Linked DNA regions of Homo sapiens: region 2 is linked to region 1. The links come from fine-mapping of genetic effects on gene expression. Tissue or cell type: monocytes. Region 1 holds a variant in brackets; the other region holds the start of a gene. All regions are shown on one strand. Distances are between the middles of the regions.

Region 1 (8,104 bases):
TCTTCTTAGAGAGATATCTTTCCAAACCCTTTTTTTTTTTTACTAATTTTTTTAGTGACAGGGTCTCACTCTGTCGCCCAGGCTGGAGTGCAGTGTCAGAATCATAGCTCACTATAATTTTGAACTCCTTTTTGCCCTTTTTTAAACTGGATTATTTATTGAGTTTTAAGAATTGCTAATATTTTAAAAACAGTTTTTCTTAATGTTTCTATTTTGAGTGGGGCATTCAAACTTTTCTGAGCTTTGTTGAACATTATTAGATCTGTGGGCTGAATAATAGTTTCCAGGCAATTAACATTTTTGTTTTTGCTTGTTTTAGAGAGTGACTCAGACATCTCCTCTACAAGTACCTAACCCATCCTGGATGCACCACCATTCATACCTCATGCAGCCTTCAGTGAGTATTCAGAAGTGGGCAGAAGCCAAAGAGGCAATTTGATGTAAAGAAAAAACTGGCTGGGCACTGTGGCTCACGCCTGTAATCCCAGCACTTTGGGAGGCCAAGGCAGGCAAATCACCTGAGGTCAGGAGTTCGAGACCAGCCTGGCCAACATGACAAAACCCTGTCTCTACTAAAAATGCCAAAAATTAGCCAGGTGTAGTGGCGGGTGCCTGTAATCCCAGCTACTCAGGAGGCTGATACAGGAGAATTGCTTAAATTCGGGAGGCAGAGGTTGCAGTGAGCTGAGATCGTGCCATTGCACTCCAGTCTGGGCAATAAGAGTGAAACTCCGTCTCAAAAAAAAAAAAAAGGCCTTTGATGCCAGGAGATGTGGGTGTGAGTTCTGGCTCAGACCCTTGTGCAACCCAGCAGTAAGACCTAAGCTTGTTATTCTTAGACGAGGGTCCTTCCACACTGACAGGCAGAGTTCCTATTCTTGTTGCATAGTTGGGTTGCTGCTCACTTACCATTTCCCAGGATTCTTAAATGTCTGTCTCCAGTGGTCCTGACAGCCACCGATCACTGCTTTAGGCAGCCTCACAGGATGCTGCAGCTAACCCTGTCCTTTGTTGCTGCCTCTAGGGTTCAGTTCTGACACCAGGGATGGACCATCCCATTTCTCTCCAGCCTGCCTCCATGATGGGACCCCTTACCCAGCAACTGGGCCATCTCTCCCTCAGCAGCACAGGCACGGTAAAGCAGGATATTTCTGATTGTAAACTCTCCTACTGAGCAAGGCATACCTGTGTAATACTCTTCAGCGTAAGTAACTTATGAATAATGATGGAATTACTTCAGTGTCATCCGGGGCACACTCAGAACAGGACATAAACTACAATGGTAGTGCTCCATGAGCCAGGAATACAGCCATTCTGCTCCCCAGCCCACCCCTTTTAACTGATTCCTACTCATGCACCTTGTGAATAGTGCTTCTGTCTGCATATTAGTTTAAGATACACACACGTCCTAGGAATCCTCATCAAAATAGTACCTGGAAGGATGGAGGAAGCTCATTAGGTTTCTTTTAGGCCTACTGCATTCCTTTTTGCATAGAAAGGGCTCAAGGGTAGAGAAGGGAGTGTGTTGAGGAAAAGCAGAAGAAAGTCAGGAAAGAGGAGGAAAATAAGTCATATAGGGAGACGTCTCCCTAACAGTGTACTTTAGAACCACCTGAAGTGCTTTTAAGATGCAAATGCTCAGACCAATTAAAATAGAATCTCTGGGGTAGAATACAGGTGTCAGTATTTTTTTTAAAGCCCCTCAGCTGCTTCAAATGTAGCCAAAAATCACTGCTGTAAGCCTGTTGATGTTTCTCTTTCTAGTATATGCCGACGGCTGCAGCTATGCAAGGAGCTTACATCTCCCAGTACACCCCTGTGCCTTCTTCCAGTGTTTCAGTCGAGGTAAGGGTGTTATCATTTCTTTGGATTGAGATTAGGAAAATGAACGGAGGCAGGTTTCCCCCTGATCAAGATCTTTCTCTCACAATGATGCTGATTCTGTGTTCACAAATAGCTGGTAGGTATACGAAGAACGTAGGAAGGATGTGCTCGCTTCGGCAGCATGCATACTAAAATTGGAACAATACAGAGAAGATTATGGCCCCTGTGCAAGGATGACATGCAAATTTGTGAAGCGTTCCATATTTAAAAAAAAAACAACAGCAGATGTAGGAAAGAAGGACTTGGTCTGAGTTCATGAATGAGGCCCTTCCTTACATTTGGCCAGCCAGTAGTTGACACCAGGATGCTGGCTTGTATTGACTAATGCGTCTTGGGAAGAGGACAGGCTGTAGGAAGGTTGGGGAAGTGGTGGTGTGGGTGGAAACACTCACACATGAGTGTGGAGAGTGGGTAGGTTTGGGAGGGCACTCGATGTAGGGTGGGCTTTGGTCAGGCTGCTGTAGTGGAGGTGAGGAAAGGAATGCGCAAGATGACCCCCCTCCTTGGCTATGGCACAGGAGAGCAGCGGCCAACAGAACCAAGTGGCAGTGGACGCACCCTCAGAGCATGGGGTCTATTCTTTCCAGTTCAACAAGTAACAGTGGGTAAGAACCACATGCTGGGGGGCAGGGAGGGCTGCACTGGCAGACAGCAGCTCAGCCCGGCCTGAAGTCAGACAGGTTCTCATGTTTGTCTTGTCTCCTCTCTGGCTTGTGCCTTCTTTAGGATTCCCCTCCCCATCTTTACTGAATAGAAATGAATTCTTGGAGATACTCATGCTCCCAGATTCCAGAGGGTTAACCAGGAATGGAGACCATCCGTCGGCCCTGCTAAGGACTAACACTTAGCCATCGTTTTTCACAGGCCTGGGCCTGGAAAAAGAAATCTCTACGTTCCTGCCCTTTACTATTGCTGATGGAGCCTGGGGGAACCATCACTTTTTTTGTGTGCTACATTCAAGGAGATCAAAAAAACTTTTCTTCTTTTGCAAAGAAAGCTTTTTGTTTTTAACTGCAACGTACTTTTCCCCTACCTTGAAGAGACATGGTGGTCGCAGCTTCTCATCTATATGAAAAAGTTTTCGATGTATTGGAATTATTTGGGAATGCTTTTAAAACAATTTGTAATTATTTCTTTACAAACCAAAACAGAACAGAAAGGTGTGGTGCTGGAACATCGATGAAGGAGCCCTACTTACTGAGCTTAGTTATGGACTTTTTTGATGCA[T/C]GTGTGTATGTGTTTTAAAAAGTATGCAGGCTCTAAAAATGTTATTTTGTAAAGCTCTCAGCTCATGCACCCCATCTCCTCTTCACCCATATTATGCCTTCTTTCTCTTGTCCAGATTCTTCTTTTTCTCTTTTCTAAACAGCTGAGCCTGCCTACTTTGCCCTTTTACAGCTTTTAATTTTATGGATTTTTAAAAATGAAATTTCATGTGGAATTTGGGGTTGGGGGGCAGGCTGGGCAAGGAACAAGGCAGAACACTAAGTAGGCCATGGAAGTGGCTGTTCTTTCCCCCACCCTGCCACACCCTGGGAGAAAAAACTAGACTTTGGCTTCAGAAAGCACAGATGTGACCCAGGCTTACTAAAGAGACAACTCCACAGCCCTGGGAACACACCCTTGAGCCAAACTTGGTTGAAGACTAGGTCTTCCCTGGCAAGTTCCGGAAGAATGGACTTACTGACTTTTATCAACTCTTCTCACTGCCAAGGCCAACAGCATCTGAGGTATAGCTTTTTGGGAGTACCTGCTTTCTTGCCTCCTGGAGGATATTTTCTGTCCTGGGCTTCATGGCCCCTCTCTTCCCTGTTACACATTGCTGTGCTCAGAGCCTTTGCAGCTGCGACCTAGTTGAATCCACATAGGCTCCTTCCACACGGTGGAAGATCTGCTGCTTCACTCACAGACCAGGAGTTCTCAATCAGAGGTGGTTTTGTCCCTCAGGCCTTTGGCAACATCTAGAGACAGTTTTGATTGCCACGCCTGGAGGTGGGATGTGTGTGCTACTGGCATCTAGTGGCTGCTAAACATCCTACACTGCATAGGATAGTCCCCACTACCCCCAGCCAAGAATTATCTGACTCCAGGGGTCAATATTGCCAAGACTGGGAAACACTGATATAGACAGTGTTGTCCCTGCCTCCTGGGTTAGGGTAAATTTTCACCCCAACCCTGGACAAACAGTGCCTTTTGACACTCATGCAACTGTTGGGGAAGGACTGGACTGGGATCCTTGAATTCTCCCCAGACTTTGACTTTTGATAACTCTGCATATAGCAAGAGTGATTCTTGAAAGAGCTGTGGCTCCATGCTGAATGCACACATGTACTCAGAGGGATTCAGGTGGGCATTGTTCTGGTGTGTGCTGTGCAATGGTGGGAAAGGACAAAGCTCTCTAAACTGTCCAGAGCAACCTGCCCTGCCCCGGTGTGCTTGGACCCTTTGCCCAGGGAACCAGGACATCAGAAATAATGTTCCTTCTGTGGAAGGACAACGGGGAGCTAGGGTAGCAAAGAGCAATAAATTCCAACTCTTTATGAGGTCAGGAGTCCTTTAAAAAAGCCTATGTCTTGGTCTTTAACTGTCCCCTTCTGCAAGATGTGACTCTATACACATGGAGACAGATTGAAGAAAGACTTCACCCATCTTCTAGGAAATAAAATCCTGCTCTTGTCTTCTCCCAGTCACTCCCTTATGCACTGAAAGGAGAATTTGACTCCCTTGCACTTCAAGGCCAGGTGCCTCTCCACTAGACAGTCAGACAAAGGCAAATAATGGAGGATAGAGAGACAGGTGTTCATTAGGCTGGCCATAGGGAGAGGAAGGGGGTGACAGCAGGGGAAAAGAAACTGTAGTATCAGTTGTCACAAGTAGAGCTCGGCCCAGCTTTCCCTCCCTTCCCAGCCACCCTAGAATTGAGAGTCCCAGTGCCCCTAGTGTCGACTTTCTATGTACATCCTAGGGGTGAGGGAGTGCGGGGCAATGGGTAGGATATAAAGCGTAAAGGACAAATTGCCGCAGTCTTCTAATTGATGCTTCCAAACTCAGGAAGGGCTTATCCAGTGTAAAATAGCCCCAAGCCCAGCAACCTTCTAGAGGGCTCTGGCTGGGCAGATAGCTTTTGTTTTTGAGTCTCCAGCCCTCAGTCAAGGAAAATATACCATAGCTGCTTTCTTGTCAGTGGCCTTTGAGAGAAAGAGAAAACAAATCTAGAATTCTGTTCATCTGATAGACCGGGGGAGCTTTGCTATGGTAGGAGGTTTAGGAAGGGCCTTTCACGCATAGAAACCATTGTTGATATTGCCACTCCCCTCTCCTCTGCCTCACAGAACTCCTGATTCTGTCTTCTTTCTCTCTCTATATATATATTTTAAAATGTTTAAATGGCTCTAATTTTTTGTTTTGAATTTTGAATTTACCTTTTGGAGTTCTTCTCATGTGAATCTACTTGTTAGATTGTATTAATGAGTGTTTCTGGTTTGGGCATGGGAAGTGATGGGGGCCTGAAGTTATTTTGCAGTGGCTAATGGCACTGAGGAATTTCTTTTTTGGTGCATTTGGTTTACACTCATTTCCTCTCCTAATTGTTAGTTCATTTGTAACAGTGGGTGAGTGTTTGGAGGAAAGGAGGGAGAAGAAAGGAGGGATACTGTTTCTCCCATGAAATAGTCTAATTGGTTGGGTTGATGGCAGAAGGAAACATAGGGGAGCCTTCCAGCTCACAGCCAAGGGTTGGGCTCTTAAACACTATGCCTAGTGTTTTCTGAATGCTGTCTTCATGGAGCCCAGCTCTTACTCTCTTTGTACTTTACATCTCACCCCCACTCATTACAGATGCTCATAACATTCTTAAAATATTTTAGTACTTGGCATTTTTCTGTTTTCAGTCAGCTAGAACACACTAGAGTCCTTTCCTCAGATGGCATAATCCTTTATAGGCTCTGAGCCTGCCTAGCCATCTCCTATCGGTGTTATTACTCCTCATCTCAGGCTCTGAGATGATACTCAGACCCTAAACTGATTGGACTTTTTGGAGGAGGGTGCCAGTAGAGAGGTCAGGAAGATGTGGAGATGATGATGGAGAGAGATGTTTTTATTTTATTTTATTTTTTCAGACAGAGTCTTGCTCTGTCGCCCAGGCTGGAGTGCAATGGCACGATCTCGGCTCACTGCAACCTCCGCCTCCCAGGTTCAAGCAATTCTCCTGCCTCAGCCTCCCATGTAGCTGGGATTACAGGCACCCACCACCATGCCCGGCTAATTTTTTTATTTTTAGTAGAGATGGGGTTTCACCATGTTGGCCAGGCTGGTCTCGAACTCCTGACCTCAGGTGATCTGCCCGCCTTAGCCTCCCAAAGTGCTGGGATTACAGGCGTGAGCCACCGCGCCCGGCCTTTATTTTATTTTTTAGAGATGGTCTTGCTGTGTCACCCAGGCTGGAGTGCAGTGATGCAGTCGTAGTCTACTACAGTCTTGAATTCCTGGGCCCAAGGGTTCTTCCCACCTAAGCCTCCCAAGTAGCTGGAAGTACAGGCACATACTACCAAGCCCAGTTCGTTATTTTAAGTTTTTGTAGAGACAGGGGTCTTACTATGTTGCCCAGACTGGTCTTGAACTCCTGTCAAGTGAGCCTCCCACCTCAGCCTCCCAAAGTGCTATGATTACAGGTGTGAGCCTCCATGCTTGGATGAGATGTTGTTTTTAATGTTTTTGGTTTTTTGGTTTTGTTGTTTTGTTTTTTTGAGACAGGGTCTCACTCTGTGGCCCAGGCTGGAGTGCAGTGGCACCATAATGGCTCACTGCAGCCTCGACCTCCCAAGGCTCAGGTGATCCTCTTGCCTCAGCCACCCCTTCCCCGGCCACCAAGTAGCTGGGACTATGGGCTTGTGCCACCATGCCTGGCTAATTTTTTTATTTTTAGTAGAGATGGGGTTTTACCACGTTGGCCAGGCTAGTGTCCAACTCCTGACCTCCAAACAGCTAATTTTTGTATTTTTAATAGAGACAGGTTTTCGCCATGTTGCCCAGCCTCGTCTCGAACTCCTGGGCTCAAATGATCCACCCACCTCGGCCTCCCAAAGTGCTGGGATTATAGGCATGAGCCACCACACCTGGCCTTTTCAGTTTTTTTATTTTTATTTTTTCTTTGAGACGGAGTCTCGCTCTGTCGCCCAGGCTGGAGTGCAGTGGCGTGATCTTGGCTCACTGAAACCTCCATCTCCTGGGTTCAAGCAGTTCTCCTGCCTCAGCCTCCTGAGTAGCTGGGATTACAGGTGCCTGCCACCATGCCTGGCTAATTTTTGTATTTTTAGTAGAGACAGGGTTTTGCCACATTGCCCAGGCTGGTGTTGAACTCCTGGGCTCAAATGATCCACCTGCCTTGGCCTCCCAAAGTGCTGGGATTACAGGCGTGAGCCACTGCACCCGGCCCTTTGTAGTGTTTTTAACTAAAGAATTTGTAGAGTTGCCCAGGCCAGGAAGCCTGGTGGCTCTAAAGGGTAATAGACCTTGTCAGTAACAGATAAGGAGTGGTAAGAGGACATTACTCATATTGAAGATGAAGACCAGACTTTGCTGCTTCACAGGCCATGCGCTGGGTTGGGCCACTTCAGCTCCACTCCATTCGTTTTCCTTTCCTAACTTGACAATCAGCTCACTCACCCTCCCTTAGTGCCTCCAGTGCCTACTCCTGTCACTCCAATGTCAACCCATTGGGAGTTGAGGCCTGTCACTCCAATGTCAACCCGTGGGCTGTTACTTTGCGTCATATGATGCTGTGAGAGGCCTTGCTGGAATGTCCTAGGAATCCCTAGTAGCAGTGGCTATTAGTCTTCTAGAAAAGAACTATTGCTGCTGCCTTGTGCACATGCCCCACCTTCTGGGCAAGTGGCAGCATTGCGCTCATGAGGGGCTTTGCATTCTTAGCCAAGGGCAATAAACTGGGTGGGTGATCTGGCCCAAACTTGCCCCTAGGCTCTGCTAGCCCTGAATCAGCAGGCTTCAGAGACGAGGGTGGGTGTTATAAAAGCCAGTCTGTAAAGGGTAAATTCCAAATCTTGTGCCTTGTTATACCAATCCTTCCTGATTCCCGTTTAAACCAACTACTCTATTTCTGTGCTGCCTACATTTTCAATCCTCCCACGCATTAGCAAATTCCTGAAATTTCCTCATTTGGTAGGCCTTCCATAGGAGTCAGCTATGGACTTCCATAGGAGTT
Region 2 (8,104 bases), 68 kb before region 1:
GTTTTGCCATGTTGCCCACATTGGTCTTGAACTCCTGGACTGAAGCAATCTGCCCACCTCAGCCTCCCAAAGTGCTGGGACATTTTTCAGCTACATTTTGGGGTTGACCTAGCCCCTACTCCTTCACCTTGGACACTTGTTTAAAAGAGTTGTTTTTCTGGAGAAATCACAAACAAGCCTATATTGAATCAGGTACAAATGTCTCTTCCCCAAAGAAGTTACAGATAACTCTCATTTTGCTTTTTTCCCTTCAAAACAATTCCTGAGTGCTGGGTTCATGAGAACCAAGAATTAGAGAGGCATTGACTAAATCTGGAAAAATGTGGGCAATGTAATGGGCAAAGCAGAAGGGCGTCAAAGTAAATACACTGGAGGAAGTAGGATTCTTCCTCCTCCCGTATACTTCCTGAATCTAACCACAGAACACCATTACCTTCCCCATCATTTCCACAGAATTCCATAACTCCTTTACAAATATACTCACCTGTAATGCCAGCAGTTTTGGAGACTGAGGTGGGCAAATTGCTTGAGCTGAGGAATTCAAGACCAGCCTGGGCAACATGATGAAACCCCGTCTCTACCAAAAAAAAAAAAATTACAAAAGTTAGCCAGGTGTGGTGGTGCATGCCTGTAGTCCCAGCTACAGGGTGGGGAGGGGTGGGATGGGTGTGAGGATCACCTGAACCTGGGGAAGTCAAAGCTGCCTGTTGTGAGCCGTGATTGTGCTACTGCACTCCAGCCTAGGTGACAGAGTGAGACCCTGTCATAAAAAAAAATATATGTTTATAATACATATACTCACCAGAATGAAGGATTTAGTTTCCAGTTTTGTTGGTGCTCTTTAACATAATACACCTTTGGCATCAGTTTGCATATCCGGGTCATTTTACTTCTGTGGTCCTAATTTACCAGATTATAAAAATTTAGATTTTTCGGTCGGGTGCCGTGGTTCACACCTGTAATCCCAGCACTTTGGGAGGCCAAGGCGGGTGGATTGCCTGAGGTCAGGAGTTCGAGACCAGACTGGCCAACATGGTGAAACCCCGTCTCCACTAAAAATACAAAAATTAGCTGGGCGTCGTGGCACATGCCTGTAGTACCAGCTACTCAGGAGGCTAAGGCGGGAGAATCGTTTGAACCCGGGAGGCAGAGGTTTCAGTGAGCCAAGATTGCACCACTGCACTCCAGCCTGGCGACAGAGTGAGACTCTGTCTCAGGGGGAAAAAAAAAAAGTAGAAAGAAAAATTAGACTTAAAAAAAAAGTTAAATTGGGTTGATTGCCTTTATGAATCAGGCCTTCAAGAGAAAGGTTTCTGTACCACATTGTTAGGGTAAAGGAGAAGATATCATCCAAGGGCCTAAACAGCAAGGATAAATTGGTTAATGAGAGTCTCTGAGAGCAGAAAAAGGACTTAAAAAAATATATATATATATATATATGGGCCGGGCGCGGTGGCTCACTCCTGTAATCCCAGCACTTTGGGAGGCCAAGGCGGGCAGATCACCTGAGGTCGGGAGTTTGAGACCAGTCTGGCCAACAAGACTACTAAAAATACAAAAAAATTAGCCGGGCATGGTGGCGCATGCCTATAGTCTCAGCTACTCGGGAGGCTGAGGCAGGAGAATCGCTTGAACCCGGGACGCAGAGGTTGCGGTGAGCCAAGATAGCACCACTGCACTCTAGCCTGGGCAACAGAGCAAGACTCTGTCTCAGAAAAAAAAAAAGATATCACTGAGTGATGCCTTCATTTATTTATTTACTGCATTTGGCTGCTGTGTTTCCAGTCTCAGTTGCAATTCCCACACTGAGGCTCTCCCACCCTTCCTGTGTCCCCTGAGCTGAGCAGGCACTTCCTGTCCTATTGGAAATGAAAGTTAGAGATTGGGGGTAGGGTATGTATATTTACTCTGCAGAATACTAATACTGTCTGTTCCATTATCATAGCAAAAAAGTGACACGGAAACTAGAATAGAGACCAGAACTTCATTTGAGGGAGGGTTTGGGCTTAATATTTGTTGTCACAAAACAGACAGGGTTAATTTATATCTCAAGAAACTACTTAGGATGGCAGCAAGGTGGCCTTATGAAGGGATTTGAAGGCTTTCATTTAACATCCCTATTGCACTTGGATTGGTAGGGGTTACTGGATATCATTCTTAAGTTTTTGGTTTCCTTTCTTGTTAAGGTTACGCCTACAAAGACATTCTTTGGAAACTAGTAGAGGTAAGTGTTGCAACTCTATTAGGTTCTTGACTCTGAAATTTGTATTCCTTCCTAAGAATTTTGTGTTTTTATTCTGTTGAAGCATATGCTTCTTAAGTATTTTTTTTTTTTAAACAGCTCAAAGACAACTCAAAGCAGACATCCCAACTGTAGACTTCAATTTAGACATAAACTCCAGGTTTGGTGAGTTACTGTAATTGTTTCAGTTTCATGGATCTTAAAGATGAGGAAATAGCAGGGTAAAGTGTTAAATAAGATAGCCTGCAATTGTTAGAGAAATAACAAGGCACCAAGTTTCATGATATAGTCCAGTCTGATAATTCCTTCTTAAGTATGAACTCATTCCTCGGAGAATCTGAAATAGGAGTGAGGGGCATCAGCCCATTGGTATGACCCAAGAGAAACACATCTAAGGATCTGAAACTAGTTATACCCCATACTCTGTTTTGCTTAGCTCTGCTCTTTGGTGTGTTCCTCTGTTTGTTCCTTTGTACATTAAGATCACTATAAATGGGCCAGGGGTGGTGGCTCATGCCTGTAATCCCAGCACTTTGGGAGGTTGAGTGGGTGGATCACTTGAGGTCAGGAGTTCGAGACCAGCCTGGCCAAGATGGCGAAACCCCGTCCCTACTAAAAAATACAAAAATCAGCTGGGTGTGGTGGTGGTCACCTGTAATCCCAGCTACTCGAGAGGCTGAGGCAGGAGAATTGCGGAAGGTGGAGGTTGCAGTGAGCCGGATCCGGGATTGCACCACTGCACTTCAGCCTGGGTGACAGACTAAAACTCTGTCTCAAAAAAAAAAAAAAAAAATCACTGTAAGTGTAAAGTAGGGGAAGCCCTGAGCTTATCTCACACACTCTAACTCTGTTTTTTTTTTTTTTTTTTTTTGCGTGTTCTCCAAGGCAATGTCTCAGGAGCCCCTTTAAAATCAAGCTTGAAATCTTATAGCTGAGATCTAAGGGTGGAAATAAAGCCCTCATTGTCTTTATATGAGAATCGGAACTTGTTCATAGAGGAAAGGGGATAAATTTGAAAGGGGTTAGACCTAAGAACTCTTCTTTCTAGCTTTAACTCCTGAGACTATGAAAAACAAACAAAAAAAAACATCTTGGGCATTAGGACCCAGTGGAAGTGCCTCTGCCTCATTCAGACTCTGTTAACTTCTCTCAGTGACGTAAAGGAGCAGCCCGAGCTCATTCTCTGCCCGCAGCCCCCCTTCATCTCTCTCCTCCTGCTCCTTTTCTCCTCCTTTCTCCTCCCCCTCCCTTTTTTCCTCCCTCCCTCTCCCCCTTTCCCTCGCTCCCCTCCTCCCTCCCTCCCCGTCTTTCTTACCCCCTCCCTTTCTCTCTCTCTCTCTCTCTCGCTCGTTCCCTAACATTAAAGAGAAAATGCTGCTATCCGTGACTTCCAGGCCCGGGATTTCGACTTTTGGCTACAATAGAAACAACAAGAAGGTAGGGAAAAGCGCTTTTTTGGTATCTAGCTACTTCTTTTTCTGGGGATCTTGCAATGCCCTTGGTTTTTACATTCTTTTTAAAGAGGGGAAGGGGCTTCCTCTCTCAAGATTCCTAATTCCTCACCGCGCTTCTCCCTTTTCCACTACTGCTTTCTGCATCTTTCCTCAACTGGTTCTGGAGTTCAGGGAACTTTCAGTCTCTGCGAGGCCTGAAAAGACAGGGGAATTAAAAACAAATCAAGCTTGCAAGTTTGTATCCTTATGAAATGAAGTTAGTTTGACTTCCTGCTGATGTATCAATCTCCACAAGGATAATATGTCATTTCAGACCCTGTCCCCCAGTCCACCCCACCCCACAAGATTATTTTATTTTTTGATTAACTGTTTCCATTCTCTCCCCAACCTTCCCTCCTACCCATACCACCAGTAGTATTAGATAGCTGAAATCATAGATAGTCAGAGAAACCACAACAGTTTATCAAGAGCTGGGTATACTCTTCTAGACTACAGATCCTACCCCACCCAGCCTATAGAGAAGGAGTCTTGAGAGACATCGCACCTTGGGATTAAGGCACAGAGCGCTGTGATACTTTGGATCTTGTATTTGAACTGATACTTGGACCTCTGCAGATAGCCAGACTTTGCAGTGATCCTAGGAGTCTTTATGATTAACCCATGGCTGCCAGAGAATTGTGCTGTCCTTGGGCACATGGGGAGAGATGGACAATCTTGTCCATATTTGACAAGGAATATATTTGGCAGTTTCTGGCATTTCAGGGCGCACAGCATACTGATTAGGAGGAATTTCATGCTGTAGCAGGAAGAAGACTCTTTACCCTCTCTTTGTGTTGTAGCTGTTCTTTGAAGAAAAAATGTGACATAGACATTTAGGGAATCTTTTGCTCATCTAATGGAATGTTGGAGGGTGAGGAACGATTCCTGCTGCTTTCTCATGTACCTAATGAGACCATTAGAGGTGGATTTAAACACAAGTGTCTGATCAATGCAGTGGGTAAATGTTTAGACCCAAAACACTTAATGTTGATTTATGGGCTTAGTCTGTGTGGTACTCATTTTGTTTATATCCTGAAGAAATATGGGTAGAGGGGAGAGGAAATGGGGAGCTATAGGTCAGAGGATACAAAGTAGTAGATATGTAGGATGAACAAATCCTGAGATCCAATGTACAACATGAGGACTATAGATGATAAAGTTGTACTGTATATGGGATTCATGCTAAATGAGCAGACTTTAGCTCCTCTTGCCACAAAAAGAAACAAAAGGGACAATTATGTGGGATGATTAATTTACTTCACTATAGTAACCTTTCTACTATCTATATGTATCCCGTAACATGTTGTATACCTTAAATATACACAATAAAATTTACTTTAAAAAAGAAATGAGGCTGGGCATGGTGGCTTATGCCTGTAATCCCAGCACTTGGGAGGCCAAGGTGGGTGGATCACTTGAGGTCAGGAGTTCGAGACCAGCCTGGTCAACATGGTGAAACCCCAAATTAGCTGGGCTTGGTGGCACGCGCCTGTAATCCCAGCTACTCAGGAGGCTGAAGCAGGAGAATCACTTGAACCTGGGGGACAGAGGTTGCAATGAGCCAGGATTGTGCCACTGCACTCCAGCCTGGGTGACAGAGCAAGACTCCATCTCAAAAAGAAATGAAATATGAGTTTATACACATTTGTTGGTTATCAATATATGTTTATATGTACATATACTGACATCCCTTTATCAAATATATGTATAGATAATACATTATATATTATACGTATATATTTGAAAGGGAAATATTTCACATGTCTTTATTCTTTTCAAACCTTGTAGAGTACCATGTGAAAATTTCTTTCCTGATTTTTTTCCCTCCTAGTTCTCTCAGGTTACCCAGAACTCATTAAAATAAAATGAATTCCCAAAATGAATTGCTTCCCTATTAGAGGTTTCACGTATTTGAAGCTATCTAAAAATCTCTTTTTGCTCTCTGCTCCCTCTCCCACCTTGGAGTATAGGAAAAAGTTAATTAGCTTCTAAATCTAGGATAGTATAGGGGACAAGAGGTATGGTTGTGGGTTTGGGTTGAAATCTCTTAGTAAGGTTTGACAATTCAGGAATTGTTGGAATTGGTTGGGGAGGATAGGTAGATACATAATTACTAATTACTAATGTATTTGTCAATTCTTTGGGTTCTTATAAGTCAATGTTATGATCAGATGTAAGGATGCTGTATCTGTGCATCACTCTGTGGCCATGCATATGACTCCTTTTGTGCCTATATAAGTTTGTGAACGTGGAGGGTTTTCATATTTTTATTTTTACTTTTTTTTTTTTTGAGATGGAGTCTCGCTCTGTCACCCAGGCTGGAGTGCAGTGGTGTGATCTCAGCTCACTGCAGCCTCCGCCTCCCAGGTTCAAGCAATTCTGCCTCAGCCTCACAAGTAGCTGGAACTACAGGAGTGCCACCACACCCGGACAATTTTTTTGTGTTCTTAGTAGAGACGGGGTTTCACCATGTTGGCCAGGCTGGTCTCAAACTCCTGACCTCAAGTGATCTGCCCTGCCTTGGACTCCCAAAGTGCTGAGATTATACTTTGAGTCACCAAGCCTGGCCCATATTTTTATTTATTTATTTGAGATGGAGTCTTGCTCTGTCGCGCCCAGGCTGGAATGCAGTGGCGTGATTTCGGCTCACTGCAACCTCCGCCTCCTGGGTTCAAGTGATTCTCCTGCCTCAGCTTTCTGACTAGTTGGGATTACAGGTGCCCGCCACCACGCCCAGCTAATTTTTTTGTATTTTTAGTAGAGACGGGGTTTCATCATGTTGGTCAGGCTGGTCTTGAACTCCTGACCTCAGGTAATCTGCCTGCCTCGGCCTCCCAAAGTGCTGGGATTACAGGCATGAGCCACTGCGCCTGGCCCCATATTTTTATTTTTATTTTACTTAATTTTTTTCCTCAACACTAGATGACCAGGGAGGGTGTTTTTAAACTATAGCATTATTACGTTGCTCTTTGTCTTGTCAAGTAGGGCTTACTGTGTTTCTGTTTTGGAAAGGGTTGTAGATGCATTTGCTTATGTAATTTGTGTATTTTCCATACTCAGTTAAATTTTATTTATTTGTTTATTTATTTATTTTGAGACAGAGTCTTACCCTGTCACCCAGGCTGGAGTCCAGTGGCGCGATCCTGGCTCCCTGCAACCTCAGTCTCCTGGGTTCAAGCGATTCTCCCGCCTCAACCTCCTGGGTAGCTGGGACTACAGGTGTGCGCCACCAGGCCCAGCTAAATTTTCTAATTTTAGTAGAGACGAGGTTTTGCCATGTTGCCCAGGCTGGTCTTGAACTCCTGGCCTCAAGCAATCTGCCTGCCTCGGGTTCCCAACGTGCTGGGATTACAGGCGTGAGCCACTGTCTGGCCCATTTATTTATTTATTTATTTTGAGACAGGGTATCACTCTGCAGTCTGGGCTGGAGGACAGTGCCATGATCTCGGCTCACTACAATCTCCAACCCCTGGGCTTAAGCGAGCCTCCCACCTCAGCCAACTTTTATATATAACTTTTTTGTTGTTTGTTTTCGAGACAGAGTCTCGCTCTGTCACCCAGGCTGGAGTGCAGTGGGGCGATCTCAGCTCACTGCAACCTCCGACTCCTGGGTTCAAGTGATTCTTCTGCCTCAGCCTCCTGAGTAGCTGGGATTACAGAGGCCCACCACCACGCCTGGCTAATTTTTTATATTTTTGGTAGAGATGGCGTTTCACCATGTCGGCCAGGCTGTTCTCGAACTCCTGACCTCAAGTGACCTGCCCACCTCGGCCTCCCAAAGTGCTAGGATTACAGGCGTGAGCCACCACGCCCTACCTATATATAACTTTTATATAAAAGTTACTGTTTCTTACTGAAACTAATGAAAGTTATTGTAAAAATTTAACTTTGGTGCTCACGCCTGTAATCCCAGCTCTTTGGGAGGTGGAAGTGGGCAGATGGCTCAAGGTCAGGAGTTTGAGACCAGCCTGGCCAACATGGTGAAACCCCGTCAATACTGAAAATACAAAAATTAGCCGGGTATGGTGGTGCACGCCTGTAGTCCCAGCTACTCAGAAGGCTGAGGCAGGAGAATCACTTGAACCCAGGAGGTGGATGTTGCAGTGAGCCGAGATTGTGCCACTGCACTGCAGCCTGGGCAACAGAGTGAGACTCCATCTCAAAAATAAATAAATAAATAAAATAAAATAAAATAAAACATAAAAGGTAGGATTATTTTATTTTGAAATACATACTTCACTTATCAGGAAAGATGTTTCCTGAGGAGCCCATGACAGTCATAGTTTTCTTACTCTTTATTGGCTGGTGGTAAATATGGGAATGCCGTCAACAAATGTATAATGCCTAATAAAGGCGGACTTTTTTCTCA

Alleles and levels. Alleles are on the strand shown, and positions count from the first base shown. SD is a standard deviation of normalised expression in the study named.
For the expression in monocytes of the gene that starts at base 3,410 in region 2, allele T in region 1 goes with a lower level than allele C (large effect, 0.80 SD a copy in CEDAR).

What was found. PIP is the estimated chance that this variant, and not a neighbour inherited with it, causes the effect.
Region 2: RBMS2 starts here. The variant in region 1 is fine-mapped to the expression of RBMS2 in monocytes (Fairfax 2014, PIP 0.95).

The regions. Positions count from the first base shown.
Region 1 is chr12:56,586,530-56,594,633 of GRCh38, forward strand. It overlaps RBMS2 (RNA binding motif single stranded interacting protein 2), which reads left to right. Exons shown (of 14, transcript NM_002898.4): 10 at 320-397; 11 at 1,025-1,135; 12 at 1,765-1,845; 13 at 2,403-2,489; 14 at 2,611-8,104. The coding sequence ends at 2,483. It also overlaps the pseudogene RNU6-343P. Among named protein-coding and RNA genes, the nearest start is that of BAZ2A, 40 kb to the right of the region's middle. The variant T/C (reference allele first, on the strand shown) is at 3,112.
Region 2 is chr12:56,518,411-56,526,514 of GRCh38, forward strand. It overlaps RBMS2 (RNA binding motif single stranded interacting protein 2), which reads left to right and starts at 3,410. Exons shown (of 14, transcript NM_002898.4): 1 at 3,410-3,679. The coding sequence starts at 3,614. RefSeq lists an enhancer at 3,845-4,588.